Linked DNA regions of Homo sapiens. The protein of the gene in region 2 purifies or fractionates together with the protein of the main gene of each other region. This does not show direct contact. Each region holds a gene or a part of one and is shown on either strand. Other genes may lie near its edges.

Evidence for each region.
Region 1: the proteins of CNPY2 (region 2) and GNB1L purify together in Homo sapiens (affinity purification with mass spectrometry; 2 studies listed by BioGRID and IntAct, with this or other methods). This does not show direct contact.
Region 3: the proteins of CNPY2 (region 2) and FBXL4 purify together in Homo sapiens (affinity purification with mass spectrometry; 2 studies listed by BioGRID and IntAct, with this or other methods). This does not show direct contact.

What each region holds. Positions count from the first base shown.
Region 1 is NC_000022.11:19,851,580-19,859,840, forward strand, and holds the start of GNB1L (guanine nucleotide-binding protein subunit beta-like protein 1), read right to left. Parts: upstream 3,296-8,261; 5' UTR 3,241-3,295; exon of another isoform or gene 3,081-3,240; intron 2,961-3,080; 5' UTR 2,864-2,960; intron 908-2,863; exon of another isoform or gene 683-907; coding exon of another isoform or gene 1-682. Other genes in the region: RTL10 (protein Bop), read right to left, coding at 1-682. UniProt on the Homo sapiens protein: Acts as a critical regulator of DNA damage response (DDR) signaling via specifically regulating phosphatidylinositol 3-kinase-related protein kinase (PIKK) family proteins.
Region 2 is NC_000012.12:56,308,605-56,313,559, forward strand, and holds the end of CNPY2 (protein canopy homolog 2 isoform 1 precursor), read right to left. Parts: intron 3,896-4,955; exon of another isoform or gene 2,811-3,895; coding exon 2,607-2,810; intron 2,451-2,606; coding exon 2,354-2,450; intron 1,992-2,353; coding exon 1,948-1,991; 3' UTR 1,240-1,947; downstream 1-1,239. UniProt on the Homo sapiens protein: Positive regulator of neurite outgrowth by stabilizing myosin regulatory light chain (MRLC). It prevents MIR-mediated MRLC ubiquitination and its subsequent proteasomal degradation.
Region 3 is NC_000006.12:98,923,652-98,931,621, forward strand, and holds part of FBXL4 (F-box/LRR-repeat protein 4), read right to left. Parts: intron 4,172-7,970; 5' UTR 4,054-4,171; intron 3,410-4,053; 5' UTR 3,338-3,409; coding exon 2,826-3,337; intron 1-2,825. UniProt on the Homo sapiens protein: Substrate-recognition component of the mitochondria-localized SCF-FBXL4 ubiquitin E3 ligase complex that plays a role in the restriction of mitophagy by controlling the degradation of BNIP3 and NIX mitophagy receptors.

The DNA of each region.
Region 1 (8,261 bases), on a different chromosome or scaffold from region 2:
CCATGTCGAGTGCCAGGCCCTCTAAGAACCTAGCTAAGTATTGCCTCACCACAGGCAGCTGAGGGGCCACTGGCAGCTGGCTGGAGGCCAGGGGCAGGGGACAGGTAACCACAGCATGGTACTCAGCAAAACTGTTCGGGTCTTGAACAACTTCCTTGAGATCCTGGCAGAAGAGCTCGTAATCGTCAGGCAGGGGCAGGTCCCCATCAAGGTAGGGGGCTGCCCAGGCCTGGGCTCGGCCTGTTAGGCGCCTGAGGATCTCGCAGACACGGCTGATGTTGTCCTGATAGTGCTCAAAGTGGAAGGACATGTAATCGCCCAGCTGGGCCAAGAAGCGGTCCAGTAGCCACGGGGAGCCATCAAAGGTGCCTGGGTCTGAGCCTGGTACCCAGCAGAAGTCCACCCTGTGGGGTCGGGAGCTGGGCATGTGCCCAGCTAGGGGACCCCTTTCTGCAGGTTTACCGCCACAAGTGCCACTAGCTGTGCTCTTCTGCTCCATGGTCGTTCGCACACACACGGTGTCCCCACAGCAGGGCCGCTCAATCCAGGGATCCACAAGGGGGGTGTATGCCACCCCAGGAGACGCCTTGTCCATCTGCTGCCATGGATGTGCGTTGGCATAATTGGCGGCTGCCCAGATGGGAATGCGAGGGCCCTGCTGACGGCACCGGCCACGAGGCATGCTGGGAGCACAGGGGAGAAGAGAGGAGAGCCAGCACTGGTGGGTGGTGGGGGTGTGGACAGATGTGGCTTGCACGACACAACAGGACAGGGATGGCTGAACAGGGCGTGGCAGACCCGCACTGGTCCAGGCAAGTGCTGAGGATCAGGGAGCTGACAGCTGCAGCCTCAGGAGAGCTGAGAAGAGCTGAGAGACTGTCAGTCGCAGGCCATCATCCGAGGCAATCTGTCCAAAGACAAGGTGGGGAAGAGCAGGAACTAGGCCTAACCATCACCCACTGGACTGGTGGGAAGAGGCTACAAGCGGGCAACCCTCTGGTACCCAACTAGGAGCTTTGAATGGAAGGAGGGGCCCAGGGGGCTGGCCTGGGAGGTCTGAGGTGGGCAAATGCTGCCTATGACATTGCAAGGGCAAGGCAGAATGACAGATGCTGTCAATTTCAGAAGAAAAGGGGCCAGATCAGAACTGTCAGGAATTTCAGGATAGCAATAGTAGTAACCTTTCACTGAGTGCCCCATTTGTGCCACCTCCCCCACAGGAGGTTGGTACTAGCATTGTCTTTGAGGCACACAGTGGTGAAGTAACTTGTCTGCAGCCACACACTAACCCATAAGTGGTGGAAGCAGCAAAAACTGGCTGGAGAGACCAGAGGCTTAACTACTATACAGCACGCGATTATAAACTACATTTGTCTGCTGAGTAGGCTCTAGCCGCCCCAAAAACTCTGAACAACGCACAGACCGCGTCGTCATTAGGCTCTTTTACATCCCAGCACCAGGCACACAGCAGGTCCTACCTGCTTCCCCGACAGAGCAGTGAGCCTGCTATTCTCTGCTCCCTCCTGACCCCACATGCTTTCCAAATTCACCTCTCACAACTGAGTGCCACCTGCAGGCAATGCCACCCCCACCCACAAACACCACCTTTCCACAGTCCCCATCCCAGCCACAGCAGAGCATCCCAGCCCCCACCATTGTAAAATCCTGGAACCCCACTTGCTGTCTGCTCCCGCCACTCCAGTCACTTGTGCCCAGGGTCTGGGGAGTCCCAGTCTGATGGCTGGACCCGCCCCTCCTTCTCCACGCAGCAGTCACCTAGGAGGCTCCAGAGCCAGTAGCCAGTTCTATTCCAGTGCAAGGAGCCCTCCTGTAGGGCTCTTACACTCTGCAGCCTAACTCTATCTAGCCCCCTCCCCAGTCTCTCTGCAAACGGAGGCCCACTCACGACCTCCAGGAAACTCTCTGCTTCACCCCACACACAAACGCCACCGGCTCACTGGGAGCACAAGGCCTGCACACACCTTCATCCCACATCTCCTATCTGCTGGCCATCCCCCCTCAGGGTGAGTTCCTCCAGGTACCTCCCAGGGTGGCCTGCAGCACTAGAACCTGCCAGGGCCACTGGCCCTACCTCCACCACCCAAACACTCTGGAATCCCTCAGGTCTGACCCCCCTCTGGGGGGGGGGTCTTCACCTGAAAGCCCAGCCCATGACCCTGGCTTCCCACCTTACTGCAGGATTATACTAAGGCCTGGACGTGAGTCGAGTCCAGTCCAGTCCCTCACTGAGCTCTAAAAAAGCAGTGACCCCGATCCAGGGCCCAGCTCCCACCACCAGCCAAGGTTAGGTATCCAGGTTGCCCACAATGACCACACCCCATGCCCGGGAGCCACAGTGTGCTACCCAGATCTCTGCCTTCCCTTCTTCCCAGTCCCCTACCCTGCCCACTCACCTGCGCACCTGTGTCCCCTGCAGTCTGGGAGAAGGCTTCCCTGCACCAGCCAGCCAGGCCTGCTTTGGGCCTGAGCCTTCCTAACCCTGGGCCGCACTCTCACCATTTTGAGAACCTTAGCCCTCCCACGCCTATCAGTCTGTTGGTCCCCCTACTTTTCTCCCCACACTGCCTGGCATAGAAGACTTTCGGCCCTTCTAGACTGGACAGCACTATCCTAAAGGGGCAGGTACCACGGCGCATGTGTGTTTGCCCCCACAAGGCCAAAGGCAGCACCTGGAACGCTGGAGCCGTTCTCTGCTCTGGGGAGACCCAGGAGCCCCAAGAACAAAACCTGCCCAAAGCCTTAAAGCAAGCTGAGTGCAGACGACTGCACCGCCCGCCCCCCAGCAACCGCCATGCAGGAAATACGAGCTCACAAGGCCCACGGCAACAAGAAGCCCACCCACCTGAGGCTACGCGAATCGCCCGCGAAGAGGGTCCTGGGATCCGTAGCCACAGACCGTGGGACGGGCCTCCCTCTGAGGGCGAGAGTCCAGGCGCCACCTAGAAAGTGGAGAACGAGATCGGCCGCCGTGAGGCCAGGCAAGGAGCGGGCGCGGCTTCCCGAGACTGCGAGAACGGCCCAAATGTCTCCAGGTGCCCCCACAAACCCCCGGCGCGGACCGAGAAACTGAGGCCCGCAGACCGAAGGCACTGCGACCCAGGCTGGGGCTCCGAGTGCCCCTCTGCGGATCAGAAGTCGGGAAAAGACGCAGGGGCGCAGCTCCAGGCCCGCGTGCACGGAGTTCAAGCCGGCCGCCCGGGCTCCCGCCTCCACACTGACCCTCTTGCCGGAGTCGGGAACGCCTGCTCCTAGGAGCGCCGCGCAGCGTCCAGAGACCGATTACATCGCGCAGCCACGCCCCCAGCGTGCGCGCGGCCGCCGTGTACGACCCGGCGCATGCTCCCGGCACGCTCCACGCGCTCCTCCCATCCAGGCCGCGCCTGCGCTGTATGCCGTGTGGCCGCTACCTCGCAGGCTCTCCCGGTCCCTGCTGGCGCGGCAGTGCCGCGCGGTGGGTGATGGGAGAGCGCGCCCATTCCCACGCCGCGCCAAGTGCCACGGGATCAGGTGGGGCCGCGTGTACAGGCGCGAGACGGTCGGGCCAAAGCTGCCCCTCATGATCCCCAGCGGACGGTGCCCGGCGGTCCCTCAGATCCGGGAAATCTGCACCCGGCTGTGGCGTAGACCGAGGGGCCGATGCTGCTTCAGCCCGCCGTTACTGCCCTGGCGTCAGCCAGACACTGGGGTGCTGCTGGGCGTCGAGAGGGCTGCTGCGGGGCCGGGCTAAGCCTGGGGGGCTGCAGGTGTCGGGGTGGATGTGGGCATAGCGGGGCTGCTGGGCCTCGTGAGCGCCCTGGAACGGCGTGCCCGCGGAGTGCCTCTCATCACTCATTGCCAGTGCGGGGAACCTTGTTAGGGCCCGGTTCGACGTAGCTGCAGGCTGGGCGCCAGAGGCAGGGGGCAGGCAGTCCGAGAGGACCCTCTACCTGCATACCTGGGGGCTGCAGGCAGGGCCTCTGGGCCTCCTTGTTGTGGATATAATTGTGTGCTTCCCGACTCAGGCCGAGGCTGGACCCGGAGACGACAGCGAGGGCAGGCTACCAAGCCCTCCCCACAGGGCCGTGCCCAGCCCAAGCCTGCCGAGTCAGCACCCAGATCCTGGGACAAGATAGGTGAGGATGAAGTGGTGGTGCTCTTCTCACTTGCACAAGCCGTCCCACGCCACCTCTCCTCGGCTTCACGGTGCCTAGAGAAGAGGTGGGAGAGGGTGCAGGCGCCCCAGCTCAGGATCTGATGCCTGTGGGCCAAGGACCTGGATGCAAGCCAGGAGTCCTTGGGGCCACGGGCAGGCAGCCGGATTCACCGGAAAGTGACGCTTCTCAAGGGGAACACACACGTAACACACCAGCTCCCTTTCTGCCCTGGTCCAGTGACTCCTTTCATGAAAGCTCTCTGAAATGTTATCTGCATTTACACCCAAACTCACTCACTTTGATCCCTGAAACGCGAATCAAAGGTCACATTGTACCTTCCCTGGGTCTGTGGGGCTTTCAGCAGCCTGGGCCAAAAATAATAAAAGTGGCACCGAGCCAGGAAACGCCTCCTTGAAGTGGGAATGAAATTTGGATTTTTTTCGGTTGTATCTTTCCTAATTGACCTGATAATTTAAACTTCCTCCCTCAAGGGAAAGGTGGGGGTTCCCACAAATTCAGCTTACCTCAGCCTCAAGGCAGCTCAGTCTACAGCTCAGCGCCCATCAGCAGAGTGGGCAGTGGGCCTGTGGAAGAAATGAATCCAACTGAGCCAGAAAAGGCCTTTTTTGGTCCAAATTTTTTTTTTCTTTCAGGCCCTCTCCTGTGTATAACTGTCATGCACCGCATAACAACGTTTTGGTCAACTAGGGACCACATATGTAACTGGTCATCCAGTAAGCTATAGTTATTTTATTATTGAAGAAAGAAAATTTTTAGGCCAGGCGCTGTGGAGGCTCATGCTTGTAATCCCAGCATTTTGGGAGCCCAAGGCGGGCAGCTCATTTGAGGTCAGGAGTTTGAGACCAGCCTGGTCAACATGGTGAAACCCTGTCTCTACCAAAAATACAAAAAATTAGCCGGGCGTGGTGGTATGTGCCTGTAATCCCAGCTACTTGGGAGGCTGAGGCAGGAGAATCGCTTGAACCCAGGAGGCGGAGGTTGCAGTGAGCTGAGATTGTGCTACTGCACTCCAGCCTGGGCAATAGAGTGAGACTCCATCTCAAAAAAAAAGGAAAATGTTTAATATAAGTGTGTTGCAGCCTAAGTGTACAGTGTTTATAAAGTCTAAAGTAGTGTACAATAATGTCTTAGGCCTTCACATTCACTCACCACTCACACCCACAGCAACTTCCAGTCCTGCACCTCTGTTCATGGCAAGTGCCCTAACCAGTTCTATTTTTTATTTTTTGCACTGTACTTTTACTGTACCTTTGCTATGATTAGGTGCACTAATACCACTGTGTCACAATTGCCTACATTGTTCAGTAGAGTCACTGTGCAAGTTTGTAGCCCAGGAGCAACAGGCCTTACCATACAGCCTAGGTGTGTAGTAGGCTCTACCATCTTAGTTTGTGTAAGTTACTCTATGAGGATCCCTCCATGACAAAATCGCCTAGTGACACATTTCTCAGAGTGTATCCCCACAGTTAAGTGACATATGACTGTTTTTTTATTGTGGTAAAATATAGTAACATTTACCATTTTAGCCATTTTTAGGTATACAGTTCAGGAGCATTAAGTACATTCATGCTGTTGTATATCCAGTGATCACTATTTATTTCTAGAACTTTTTCTTCACTCCAGAACATTAACTCCTCTTCCCCTCCCACTCGCAACCCCTGGTAACCATCATTCTATATTCTGTCTCTGTGAATTTAATTACTCTAGGTACCTCATATAAGTGGAATCATACAGTATTTATCATTTTGTGACTGGATTATTTCACTCAACATGTTTTCAAGGTTCATCCACATCGTAGCATGTGTCAGAACTTCCTTCATTTTTAAGGCTGTGTAATATTCCTTTGTACACATTGACCAGATTTTGTTTATTCATTTGTTGATTGACACTTGGGTTGTTTTCACCTTTTGGCTATTGTGAATAATGCTGCTATGAACATTAGTGTACAAGTATATGTTTGAGTCCCTGCTTTCAGTACATAAGAGTGAAATTGCTGAATGATACGGTAATATTTTGTTTGACTTTTTGAGAGATTGCCAAACTTTTCCATAGCAAGTGAACCATTTTACATTCCCACCAACAGTGCACAGGAGTTCCAACTTCTCCACATCCTCACCAACACTTGGTTACCTTCTCTTTTGTTTTTTTCCAATAGCCATCCTAACGGTATGAAGTGGTGTCCCATTGTGATTTTAATTTGCATTTCTCTAATGACTAGTGAGATTGAGCATCTTTTCCTGTTATTGGCCATTTGTATATCTTCACTGGAGAAATGGCTATTCAAGTCCTATGCCCATTTTTCACTGGATTTTTGTTTTTATTGTTGAGTTGTAAGATTTTTCTAGATATTCTGGATATTAATCCCTTGTCAGATATATCATTTGCAAGTATTTCTCCATAGGCTGCCTTTTCACTCTGTTGATAGTGTCTTTTGATACACAGAAGTTTTTCATTTTCATTAAAATGTCATTAACTTAATTTCACTAAATTAATTTCATTAATTTCCAAGTCTAATTTGTCTATATGTTGGTGGTAGTGGTGGTGTTATATCTAAATCATTGCCAAATCCAGTGCTATGAAGTTTTGCCCTATGTTTTCTGCTAAGTTTTATAGGTTTAGGTCTTTATATTTAGGACTTTGACCCATTTTGAGTTCATTTTTACATACGGTGTTAGGTAGGGATCCAGCTTCATTCTTTTGCATTTGAATATCCAGATGTCCCAGCATGATTTGTTGAAGACTATCCTTTCCCTATCTTAGTACCCTTGTTGAAAATCATTTGACCATATATGCAAGGGTTTATTTCCAGGCTCTCTAGTCTGTTCCATTGGTCTGTATGTCTGTCTTTCTTTTTTCAGGAAAGTACAGTGTTCAAACTACACAGTCTTGATTACTGTGGCTTTGTTTTAAATTTTGAAATCAGGAAGTGAGAAGCCTCTAAGTTTGTTCTTTTTCAAGATGGTTTTGGCTATTAGGAGTTCCTACAGATTCCATATGAATTTTAGGATGGGTTTTATCTTCCTTTCTTTTTTATTTTTTTTATTTTTTTTTTTGAGACAGAATCTTGCTCTGTCGCCTAGGCTGGAGTGCAGTGGTGCAATCTCGGCTCACTGCAACCTCTGCCTCCCAGGTTCACGCCATTCTCCTGCCTCAGCCTCCTGAGTAGCTGGGACTACAGGCACCCGCCACCACGCCTGGCTAATTTTTTTTATTTTTAGTAGAGACAGGGTTTCACCGTGTTAGCCAGGATGGTCTTGATCTCTTGACCTCGTGATCCACCCATCTCGGCCTCCCAAAGTGCTGGGATTACAGGCGTGAGCCACCGTGCCCGGCCTTTTTTTTTTTTTTTTTAAACTAGACACAGGGTCTCCCCTGTCACCCAGACTAGAGTTTAGTAGCCTGATAATAGCTCACTGCTGCCTCAAATTCTTGGGCTCAAGTGATCCTCCTGCCTCAACCTCTAAAGTACCTATGACTACAGACATGTGCTACCACACCTGGCTTTTTGTTGTTGTTGTTGTTAAAGCTAGGGTCTCGTTATATTGCCCAGGCTGGTCTTGAACTCCTAGGCTTGGCAAAATATTGGGATTACAGGCATGAACAACCGAACCTGGCCTGTGATAGGTTTTTATATTTCTAAAAAAACACTGTTGGGATGTTAATAGGATTGCATTGCCTCTGATGACCACTTTGGGTAGTACTGACATGTGAACAATATTAAACTTTCCAACACAGGATGTCTTTCCATTTAATTGTGTCTTTAAATGGATATAATTGAACACAGGATGTCTTTCCATTTAATTATGTCTTCTTTAATTTCTTTCAACAATATTTTGTAGTTTTCTGTGTACAAGTCTTTCACCTCCTTGGTTAATTCCTATGTATTTTATTCTTTTTGATGCTATTTAAATGAAACTGCTAATTTCCTTCATGAAGTGTTCACTGCTAGTACTATATAGAAATGCAACTGATTTCTGTGTGTTGATTTTGTATTTGACAACTTTGCTGAATTTGTTAATTATTCTGTTTTTATAGAATCGCTATAAGATCATGTCATTGGTGAAAAAATATAATTTTACTCCCTAT
Region 2 (4,955 bases):
AGCATTTCTTATGGATGATGGGAGAAGATGGAATTAACACCAGGCTGATATTAGTTGACAACAAATATCAGAGTGCTTGCTCTGTGCTCTAGTTAATTTGTCAGATTTCACAGGGATTTTTGGTACAAGAAAGCTTTGTGGAATATATGCATTCTATGCGCCAGGCTTAGTGCAAGGTATTATTAGAGAAAAAAGACTTAAAATAGAAGGTACTCTATAGCTATATTAGATCAGGTCAGCACTTGGGAAAGTTAGCTTATAGACCCAGTTTTGCCATTAAATACAGAACTTCATAAAGTTCTATGGCTTCTCTGGGCCTCAGCTTCTTCATCAATAAAATGGGCAGAGGTGAACCAGACGACCTCTAAGGTTCCTTTAGATTCTAAAATGATGTAATTTTTAAAACCTTTGAAATGTTTATTCAGGTCTTCTCTCCTTGAGGTGTTCTTGGGACCGGAGATATTCCATTTGAAACCCTGAGACAACCATACCTCAAGCTCAGAGTGCTTAAGAATTTTCTGCCAGGTGCGGTGGCTCACACCAGTAATCCCAGCATTTGGGGAGGCCAAGGCGGGCGGATCATGAGGTCAGGAGATCGAGACCATCCTGGCTAACACGGTGAAACCCTGCCTCTACTAAAAATACAAAAAAATTAGCCAGTGCAGGCCGGGCGCGGTGGCTCACGCCTGTAATCCCAGCAGTTTGGGAGGCCAAGGCGGGCGGATCACGAAGTCAGGAGATCGAGACCATCCTGGCTAACATGGTGAAACCCCGTCTCTACTAAAAATACAAAAAATTAGCCGGGCGTGGTGGCGGGTGCCTATAGTCCCAGCTACTTGGGAGGCTGAGGCAGGAGAATGGTGTGAACCCGGGAGGCGAAGCTTGCAGTAAGCCGAGATCGCGCCACTGTACTCCAGCCTGGGCGATAGAGCGAGACTCTGTCTCACAAAAAAAAAAAAAAAAAAATTAGCCGGTGTGGTGGCGGGCGCCTGTAGTCCCAGCTACTCGGGAGGCTGAGTCAGGATAATGGCGTGAACCTGGGAGGCAGAGCTTGTAGTGAGCCGAGATCGCGCCACTGTACTCCAGCCTAGGCGACAGAGCGGGACTCCATCTCAGAAAAAAAAAGAAAAAAAGAATTTCCCAAAAGAAGGTATCCTTTAGGTTTTCATCCCTATGCCCCAGTCTGGAATCTCTACACACAGAATTGTGGACAGACTTATAGTCCAGATTGACAATGGCTAGTGATAGATACACTTTATTGTTGCCACTGGCATCAAATTTAAAAGCTTAGGCTGGCAAGCAAGGCCTCTCATTAAACAACCTTCCTTACCTCGTCTGTCCCTATCCGATAAAGCCCTTACTTTTCAGCTGAGTTGGTCACATCCATTTTCCCCTTCCTGTCTCTGTTCTTGCTGGTCCCTCCATCTGGATGGGCAGGGAAGGAAGAATAATGCATATCCGTTATTTCCTTCAAGACCAAGCCCTGTCTTACTTTATGTTTCAACAGCCATGAACACAAGGGATTTCTAGAATTCTACACTACCATACACTATGTTCCCCTGCTTCCTCATGGAGGTTCCTCTATTCTCCACAATTAGACTCTAAAGACGTGGTATTGAGTGGGCACTGACTGAAAGCTTATCTAGTTTATGAGTGGAGTGGAATCTCAGAAGGTAGAAGAATTAAAGGTTCAGGCCTCTCCTACCTTTATCCTGTATCAATCCCAAAACTCTTCTTTCTCCTCCATTATCTTTCCTGTCTATATAACTCCTTATCTTCAAGCTTAATGTAAGGGCAATTCCAGGCATGAAAAGACAACACAGTTTGTACTTTTGGTTTCATATTTTTTCAGTTAATTTCAGTAAAAACATAATATATAAAAGGCATTGCCACCATTTTCCCCTCCTGGGGGTGATCCATCAAGCCAGTGTGGGCTGCTCCAGTGGTTCATAGCTCATCATGCGATATGTGCAGGGCATGGTCACAAAGATCTGCAAATGGCAAACAATTTAAAGGAATATGCCATTCTCATACTGATATCTGCCAGTATCAAGAAAATTTCCCAGACCAAGCTGACACAAACACACACCAACCACCATTCTGCAGAATATATGCTTATAAATGATAAAACATCCCCACTGTCCTCTCACCTGTATCTCAGGGTCAAGGGGACACAAATTCTGAAAGCTGACAGAAAATGTGGAGGAACACCCCAAGTCCCTAAGCCAAGGGAAATGGAAGACAGCTCTTGACCTAATACCAGAGGTTTCTGGGATGGGGGTGTATGGGTGAGTTAGGGAATGTCAGGTTCCACAGAGCTACTAGAACAGGAGATAAAGTGGGGGCAGCTTACCTGTTCGCTTACTGCAAAGTTTGTCTTTAACATTGTCAGCCTCTCGGGAAAAGAATTCAATGAGTTCATCCTCGTATTCCTCCACAATGCTCTCACACTGCCAACCCAAGGGAGAAATGGGTGACACAGGGCAATAAGAGGCCTCTTGCCTTCACTTCCAAAGAGGAGGACAAGGATATCAGCCTAACTTTCTAATTGGTTCTCCAACAACCCCTTAATGTCCAAGAACCAGCTACCGATTCCCATAGCTCACCGCAAACTTGAGGGTGCCGCTAATATCTGAGTCGATTCGGATGCCTTGTAGGTCCAGTTCACTGGATTCTCCATTCCGGCCCACTACACGTACGTAGTTCTTGCGATGGGTGGAAGGATCAATCTGTTCCCCATACTCCTTCATCCGGTCACATATCTCCTCCAGCAGCTCTGTGAGGTGGGCCTCTGAGCGGGCATAAGGCACCTAGAAATGTCCTCAGCCTTGGGTCACTCTCTTCTACCTCTGTACATTAGTAATTTATATCCTTACTTTTCTTTCCAAATCTAGCTCCAACAACCTATTCTAAAAAGCTTTCCCTAATTGATTTTAATTAGTTTTGTTTGTTTGTTTGTTTTTTGAGATGGGGTTTTGCTCTTGTTGCCCAGGCTGGAGTGCATTGGCGCCATCTCGGCTTATTGCAACCTCTGCCTCCTGGGTTCAAGTGATTCTCCTGCCTCAGCCTCCTGAGTAGCTGGGACTACAGGCATGCACCACCACACCCAGCTAACTTTTGTATTTTTAGTAGAGATGGGGTTTCTCTGTGTTGGTCGGGCTGGTCTCAAACTCCAGACCTCAGGTGATCTGCCTGCCTCGGCATCCCAAAGTGCTGGGATTACAGACGTGAGCCACTGTGCCTGGCCTAGTGTGGTTTTCATTTATTTTATTTTATTTATTTATTTATTTTTTTGAGACGGAGTCTCACTCTTTCGCCCAGGCCGGACGCAGTGGCACTATCTTGGCTCAGTGCAAGCTCCGCCTCCAGGGTTCACACCATTCTCCTGCCTCAGCCTCCCGGGTAGCTGGGACTACAGGCGCCCACCACCACGCCCAGCTAATTTTTTGTATTTTTAGTAGAGACGGGTTTCACCGTGCTAGCCAGGATGGTCTCGATCTCCTGACCTAGTGATCCGCCCACCTTGGCCTCCCCAGGTGCTGGGATTACAGGCATGAGCCACCGCGCCCGGCCTGGTTTTAAATTAATATGGTTTACTTGATAGTTTCAAAGTACTTCTTTTTTTTTTTTTTTTTTTTTTTTTTGAGACAGGCCTCACTCCGTTGCCCAGGCTGGAGTGCAGTGGTGTGATGACTGAGGCTCACTACAGCTTGGATCTCCCAGGCTTAGGTGATCCTCCCATCTCAGCCTCACACAGATGCACACCACCACACCCAGCTACTTTTTTATATTTTTTTTGTAGAGACGGGGTCTTGCCATGTTGCCCAGGCTGGTCTCGAACTCCTGTGCTCAAGTGATCTGCCTGCCTTGGCCTCCAAGAGTGCTGGGATTACAGGTATGAGCCACTGTACTTGGCAGTAGTTTCAACTATATGATTTTATTTTACCTCATTGTACAATTCTTTTTTTTTTTCTTTTTTTTTTTGAGATGGAGTTTCACTCTTGTTGCCCAGGCTGGAGTGCAATGGCGCGATCTCGGCTCACCGCAAGCTCCACCTCCCGGGTTCAAGTGATTCTCCTGCCTCAGCTTCCCGAGTAGTTGGGATTACAGGCATGTGCCACCACGCCCAGCTAATTTTGTATTTTTAGTAGAGACGGGGTTTCTCCATGTTGGTCAGGCTGGTCTCAAACTCCCAACTTCAGGTAATCCACCCGCCTCAGCCTCCCAAAGTGCTGGGACTACAGGCATGAACCACCGTGCCCGGCACCTCATTGTACAATTCTAAGAAACAAGACAGTTAACATTAGCTCCAAGTTATAAACAGAATTTTTTGATTAACCTGATCAACTTATACTTCTAATTTCTATAGATGAAGATAATTTTTTTTTAAATTATAGTTTAAGTTCTGAGATACATGTGCAGAACGTGCAGGTTTGTTGCATAGGTATACATGTGCCATGGTGGTTTGCTACACCCATCAACCTGTCATCTACATTAGGTATTTCTCCTAATGCTATCCCTCCCCTAGCCCCCAACACCCCAACAGGACCTGATGTGTGACGTTCCCCTCCCTGTGTCCATGTGTTCATTAATATTTTATTTTTGGCCGGGCGTGGTGGCTCACGCCTGTAATCCCAGCACTTTGAGAGGCCGAGGAGGGTGGCTCACTTGAGGTCAGGAGTTCGAGACCATCCTGACCAACATGGAGAAACCCTGTCTCTACTAAAAATACAAAATTATCCAGGTGTGGTGGTGCATGCCTGTAATCCCAGCTACTCGGGAGGCTGAGGCAGGAGAATCGCTTGAACCCGGGAGGCAGAGGTTGCGGTGAGCCGAGATCGTGTCATTGCACTCCAGCCTGGGCAACAAGCCCTAAACTCCATCTCAAAAAAATAATAATAATTTTGTTTAAATTGAGACTAATATCCTCAGTAAGCACAGTATTAAAGATGTAG
Region 3 (7,970 bases), on a different chromosome or scaffold from region 2:
CCTCATGGTCCTCTTCTAGGCTGGCCTGTAAGCTCAAAAAAGAGCCATCTCTGTCTGACTCTCTACTTGGTTCCTAGCAGTGAACTGGCAGAGAGGGTGTTCAATAAATGTTTCTGATTGTATAAAAAATTCACCCAAATGTTAACAGTTACTGAATCTGGGCAGAAGAATTACAGATTTTTTTCATATATATTTTCCTTTTTTTTTGGTATTTTCTAGATTATTTTTAAACAATGAAACATCTATTGATTTCATAATCAGTAAAATTTAAAAAGGCTTTTTCTTATATCTTAATAATATATTGGTCACCTTTTTTTCTCTTAAAATGTAATGGTATTTTCAGTAGACTAAAGCTGAAAATCAGTAAAGAAAATTAGAGATACAGGTATAAATAAAGTTTTAACTTTAATCACAACCATATACCAGTAACTCTCAGTAACCCAAGAGCATGATTTGTACTTAAAATTAGTTATGCAGCTGTTAAGTTTTAGACTGGAGAAAACACATTACATGTTCCATTGATCTCCTCCCTAAATCTTTTCAGATTTTTGGAAAAAAGTAGGTAACTTTGTAAGAAGAATGTCAGAGTCCTAATAAAACAATTCTCATATAAGAAAAGATCCTGCCATGCACAGTGGCTCCCATCTGTAATTCCAGCACTTTGGGAGGCCGAGGCAGGCGGATCACCTGAGGTCAAGAGTTCGAGACCAGCCTGCCCAACCTGGTGAAACCCCATCTCTATTAAAAATACAAAAATTAGCCAGGCATGGTGGCACGCACCTGTAATCCCAGCCGCTCAGGTGGCTGAGGCAGGAGAATCTCATTAACCCGAGAGGCAGAGGTTGCAGTGAGCCAAGATCGTGCCACTACACTCCAGCCTGGGCGACAGAGTGAGACCCTGTCTCAAAACAAAACAAAAGATCCTACTCCATTTTTTCCTCTTAGGGAGAAAACAAAAATCTGATTTTAATTAAGGTATGCTGGCTTTCTGAGTTTAAAAAACGACTAATAACATTATTTGCAATGAATTATTAGGTAGTTCTGGAAAAAAAAGTAAAGATTATACCAGCAATCTCCAAGTTGAGCTGTACTCTGTATGTTTTCTGGCAGGCCCTGGAAGTATTCCCTTAGAGATGAGGGGACAGAGATATCAGAGGAGCTGCATGTTACGGAGGTAGCAGCTGACCTCTGCCCGCCTCCTCCTGCACTGGCAGCTGGCCATCCCTACAGTTGAACAGGTGCCCTGATCTGCTCTCAGGCTAGAATGAGAGCGGGAATTTTTATTTATTTTGTTCACTGCTCGCTGACACATCTCTAATACCTAGAACAACACCTAGCACATTAGGTAGGCACTAAAATATTTAATGAACGAGTGATTTAATAAAGTGATATGAAGTCCTAGAAACTGCTAAGATCCATGAGTAATAGAAAAAATGAGCAAATAATATGATCAGATAGTTAAAGGAAAAAGAAATATAAATGGCTTTTAAACATATGAAAAGATTTCAACCTCAGAGATAATAAAAGAATTTTAACAGTTAACATGAGATAACATTTTTCACCTATTAAATTGCAAAAATATTGAAATTTATAAACATACTCTGTAGGCGAGGCTTTGGCAAAACACCCATGTACATGCCCTGCTAGTGGGAATATAAATAGTACAGACTCTTTGGAGAGAAATTTGGCATTACATATGAAAATTACAACTGTTAAAAATTAAAATTAAATGTAACTAAGAATAAATTGTTAAAATGCAAAAAAAAAATGTTAAACATTACAAAATTATCAAATTATCCTTGGTTGAGTAGCCTTCTTCTAGGAAATTTATCCCACAGATATACTTGCACACATGCAAAGTGACTTATGATAAGGTCATTCCCTGCATTAATGTTTATAAGAGCAAAAGACTAGAAACAACTAAGTGCCCATCAATGGGGGACTAGTTAATAAGTTGGGGTTCATACACACTATGCATTACTTGCAAATGCAGGAAAGAATGAGGAAGCTCTCTTTGTACTTACAAGAAAAGATCCAACATATACTACTGTGTGAAACAAGGTACAGAACAGTGTGATAAATATGCTTACTTTTGTGTATAAAAATATAAAATTATATTTGTATTTGCTTGTGTCTGCACAAAGAAATTCTGGAAAGATACAAAATGAGCTGATAAAAGTGGTTTCTTCGAGGGAGGAATGGGTCCTAGGCACATGGAGAACAGGGTACATGTGAGACTGCATTATATTAATATTTTGTAAAATTAGGAGGTTGAATGACAAAAACGACAGCCAAGGAGCTGTTATGCAAAACAGGCTTGTAGGGAGAATGCATGAATTACTTAAAGCAACATTGATTTTTAAATGAATATGGGTGTTGCAAAAACATTCAACTAACGTTAAACCAAATCCCCTAAGGACCTCCTCTGAAGTGTCACTCACAGGCCTATTGTGAGTTGTTGAAAAGATTTAAAAGTAGTAACATGATGCCTGTTTGAAAATATTTTCAAAGTCATATTTCGTACTAACGTCCCAGAATGGCCCATGTCCCTATGAGTTCAAATTGTGCTTTTTGGTTTTGGTAAATTTTATGAGATACAAATATCATAAGCCATGAATATTACAGTATGAGGTATTACAGGTATAAAGCCTGAATTAAATCTTTATATGAGTGATCTCTCTTCCCCATCAGAAAACTAAGGAAAATTTTCAAAATCAAATTCAATTAAGTTACTTAAAAGAATGCTTGCAATAAAAAAGATCTCCAATATTAACAACCAAAACCTTTCTACCATATAACTTAGGTCATTAAAAAATTAGTCTTACCTTACTTCAGCTGGTGGATTTGGGGAATAAGGATTTGCAGAACAAGCGAGAATTCTAATGACTGCTCCGGGATGATAGGTTTCTAGAACATGTACAGCTGTAGGATACACCTGTTGTTCAAAAGTAAGTTCCACATAGTCCTGGCTCTGAAAATTAGGTGGCGTCCTCTTGAATGGCAAGGAAGCACTAGGACACTGATCCCACCATGTCCCATAAGTTCGAAACACAGCTGTCTGAGTAAAGTCACCAGAACTTGGGAATACATTTGGTACACCAGCCAAATTCCACATAGTATAGGACATACTATTCTCACTTCCATAATGGGAACTGAAATCCACTACTTCTTTGGCATACTGGACTACCTCTGCATTGAGAGGGGAAGTCTGGCTGTTTGATTCTATAGCTCTATGGGTGTTCATCATTTCTCCTCTTGTAGCTGTCCTGGCTCGGCGCCGAAGGCATATATAATAAAACATGGTCAGAACTGTTAACATGGGAAAGACCGGTGACATCTAGATGTGAATTATGAAGCTTCAAAAGGTCAGGTGTCCTCAGTAAGATGCATGAACTCTTTGAAGGATGTTCTAAAAAAATGAATGGCTTGGTGAAGTAAAATAATTTAAATAAGCAGAAAAATGCATGGATAAGGTAATGAACAGGCTCTACCCTCAATGTAATTTCTCAGAATGAAACTAAAAAAACAAGTTTTAAAATACAAATGTGAAGTCTGGTATAAATAAATTTTCTAATGTATTTTTAAGAAACCTAAATATTGTTATGCATACAATATGGGAAGCAAAACTATATTATAAGGCAATTGGAAGATATACAATCCAAAAAGCCGTATTTTATACAAAATTATAACCATCACTCAAGAAATACTAAGTCTTTGAATCTGAAAATTAAAATTATTTAAATTATATGGTGAACCACTAAAATACTGCTGTAAATTCAAAATAATCTTAGACATTGCTGTAATTTTACATGTTAACAAAAATTCCCTACTGTTAATTATTACTCTCTTTCAAACATACAGAATTCAGATTTCACATTATGGGAATATAGTTCTTTGGTGCTGACAGTTAATCCAGATGAACTACATTAACTGCCTTACACATCACAGATCACAGATCAGTGTTTAATTTATAACTCCTAGCATTATTTGTTAGGGCAGTCCATGGCTGGCTGGCATCTGGTTTGTTGCCAGCTACTCTTAGAAATCACTCACCCCAGATAGAATGGTCACAGGATACACATGGGAAATGCAAAAGTTGGCATTCATCCAGGTACCCTGAACTTTGCATGCTGACTTCAGGTACAAATGCTGACATGTGACATTCTTTTACCTGTAAGAAAAGAGTTTTGGAAAATATTTTTATGTCCAAGTCACAAAGTCAAAATATCCAAAATTATAAATAGCCACTTATTCAACCCTTCAAATCAAACAGGCCACATTTTTCTATTTTGTACACAATTTTAAATAATGTATTTTTTAAATGTTATGATAGAATATAATAAAGATTTAATAATGAACGCTATCTATAAAGAGGTTGCAAACTCACAGCTTTTGTTTCAAACTATGTTTGTATACATATTTCACTGAGGCCAAACAGTGTTTTTTAAAAATTTGATCTAGTTTGTAACCTTTAACAATCAACAAGATCCCAAGAGGCATGAGCTCTCTCAGTGGCCACTCTCGTTCCCAGCCAGCTCCACTCATTTACAACATAGGCTGGGGCCCATCCTCATTGAGTAGGTAAACTTTTGTTGACAACAAGGAACTATAAAACAAACTTATTTTTGTACCTGTAAAGTCTTGAGTTTAACTTCTAAGAAGGGAGATGTACCAACTTTTCTTTTTTTTTTTTCGAGACAGGGTGTCTCTCTTGCCGCCCAGGCTGGAGTGCCCTGGCGCAATCTCGGCTCACTGTAACCTCTGCCTCCTGGTTTCAAGCGATTCTCATGCCTCATCCTCCTGAGTAGCTGGGACTACAGGCATACACCATCATGCCCAGCTAATTTTTTGTAGTTTTAGTAGAAACAGGGTTTCACCATGTTAGCAAGGCTGATCTCGAACTCCTGACCTCAGGTGATCTGCCTGCCTCGGCCTCCCAAAGTGCTGGGATTACAGGTGTAAGCCACCACGCCCTGCCCCAACTTTTCTTTAATAGAGCAATGCACTAGTCTTCCAAAACTTCAGCACTAAGATTATAAAACATTATTTGCACTAAATGTCCCTTCCACTGAAAAACCTCCAATGCCTTTTTCTTATCTGCAAGATATAATCTAAATTATTTGGTTTGGTATTTTAAGGCTCTCTTCAAGCTGGACCAATCTCTTCTTGTCTAACCCAGCAAACCCAATCAAGTTCTAACCACTCTTCGTATTTTACGTTAAGTCTCGCTTCCTCTATCATTTCTTTTCCAACCACTTTTTTCCACATCAGTAGCCTTACTTTCTGATACCTACTGGCACTGCATTTTTATGAGATATATACCTTAGTTCCACTAGGGTTTATATTAGGAATAAGTCTCTTGAAGGAGGGAATCTAGCCAAAGATCTTTATTTCTCAAAGTACACAGTACATAATAGGCACAAAATATTTGACATGTTGATAGGTGATGAGCAAATTAAAAATTATAAAAATCTAAAATAATTTTAAATTGTATAACAGCATCCTTTTGCCTCTCAAACCCAAACAGATCCAAACACAATGAAATATTTAAAAATATAAGCACTGAAACACTACTTAAATAACTGAACTTGAAAGAAGTGCAGAGAATCCACAGTAGTAAGAAACTAAGAAGAAAGTTAGCTGGGCATGGTGGCTCACGCCTGTAATCCCAGCACTTTGGGAGGCTGAGGCAGGTGGATCACCTGAGGTCAGGAGTTTGAAACCAGCTTGACCAACACAGAGAAACCCCGTCTCTACTAAAAATATAAAATTAGCCAGGCATGGTGGCACATGACTGTAATCCCAGCTACTCGGGAGAGTGAGGCAGGAGAATCGCTTGAATCCAAGAGGTGGAGATTGCAGTGAGCCAAGATCATGCCATTGCACTCCAGCCTGGGCAACAAGAGAAAAACTCCGTCTCAAAAAAAAAAAAAAAAGAAAGAAAGAAAGTCAATGAGCAGAAAAAAGAAAGTCAATGAACAGAGGTCAGGGGCTGAAGCTAACATGACTCATGGAACCAGTTACAGGCCATAATGGTTACAAGGGGACTCCCTAACACCCATTCAGAGACGTTATTTAAAGACACAGGTCACAGTTGGAAGGACCTTCATAAAGTCAAAACTCTGAAAGGATCACCCTATCCATGAAACCAGGACTATAAAAACTTAGCTTACTGGCCAGGAAACCCAAGTAGGCATGACATCAACTAAGGCAATGGGGGGAAAGTCACCAGAGGAAATCAGAACCATATGAGGCATGAACCATGCATAGAGTGTGGGCCTAAATTCACACAACCTTCATGGTTTAGAATCCCACCCTATCCTCATGCCAAAAACTGAAAAAAGAAAAGTAGTCCTGAACTGGTAAAACTTTAGGACCTGGTAAGAGCAAATGTGAAAACTCTTTGCAGGAATGCTTCCAAAACATACAACAGACTAAACCTTTACTAATGATGCATCACAGTAAAAAGTTACAGACCAGAATAGAAAATGAACCATGATGAGAGATAGTCAGTGGACTCACCAAATGGAGGGATTTGCAGCACAAGAACAAGAAATAACAGAATAACCAGAATAAGACTTTTTCCAAAGAAGGGCAACAAAGCATATATTAAAATAAATAGGCTGGGCATGATGGCTCACACCTGTAATCCCAGCACTTTGGGAGGCCCAGGTGGGAGAATCACTTGAGCCCGCCGGGGCGGAAGTTGCAGTGAGCCGAGATTGCACCACTGCACTCCAGCCTGGGTGACAGAGCCAGACCCTGTCTCAAACAAACAAATAAATAAATAAGGTGTTTCTGTAACACACACTTAATGGATGTGCTCATGAGTCAATGAACCAGATTCACCTCAGGACATATAATAGCAAGTACTGAAGTATGTCATGTTATAATTGGGGGAAAAATAACTACCTGTTATATTACTTCTTTATTCAAACATTTCACCTACCACAAGTATAAATTTGTCAAATTAAAAAATATATATATTTAAGGCTGAGGCTGGAGGATAACTTGAGCTCAGAAGTTCAAGGCTGAAGTGAGTCATGATCGTGTCACTGTACTCCAGCCTGGACCACAGAGCAAGACCCCGTCTCAAAAACAGACAGACAACTTTTTGCCATTCAAGTCTCAATCCTTAACAAAAAAAATTGAAATGGTACAAATCTTTCTTTTACCATATACACTTTATTTCAAAATAGGGCTGCAGATAAATTAAGAACCATTTTCCAAAGAAGTTGACTATTCTCTTTTCAAAAAGAAAAAGAATTAACAAGTTAAACTGCAAAAATAAAATTTAGGAAATAAAGAACAACCTATAACATGTATTCAAATCAATTGACAAATCAGCTAATTTAGAAGACTATGGATGTGTTATTCCTGGAAACCATCAAGGGAAGGACAGAAAACCATCTGCCACAGTGGATGAATAAGTTGACTGCTTAATCTCTGGACATCACTTCTCACTCCACGGTCTATAAATTGCTTCAACTAAGCTCCTCCCCCTTTCTTTATAAAACTGTGTTGTGCATTTTTGGCAAAAAGATTTTAGACAAATTGTGAAAGTCAAATTCTGTTTGACATACCAAGCTACAAACTTTGAAACTGTTTCCCAGCTTTTACCATTGTAGATTATAAGATAATATCAAAAGCAAGACTGTCATATGGGCAATATTATGTTTAAGCTGTGTTAAAGTTAAGCAAAATTTTGCATTGAGGCAACATATGTAAAAGTGAGTTATAAACTGTAAATATATGTGTTATATGTTCAAACTTCTTCAATATAGAAATGTAAAATGGATGCTTTAGTTTTTTTCAACTATGGATAAAAATAATATTTAATGCTAATTTTTTCAGGAAATAAAGTTAAAAATGGCAAAAGAAATTTTTAAAGGAAGGAAATGCAGAGTCTGATATACCAAAAAAGCAAATATATTTATTCTTTTTCCAGCAGTGCTATTTGGAAAATGTTA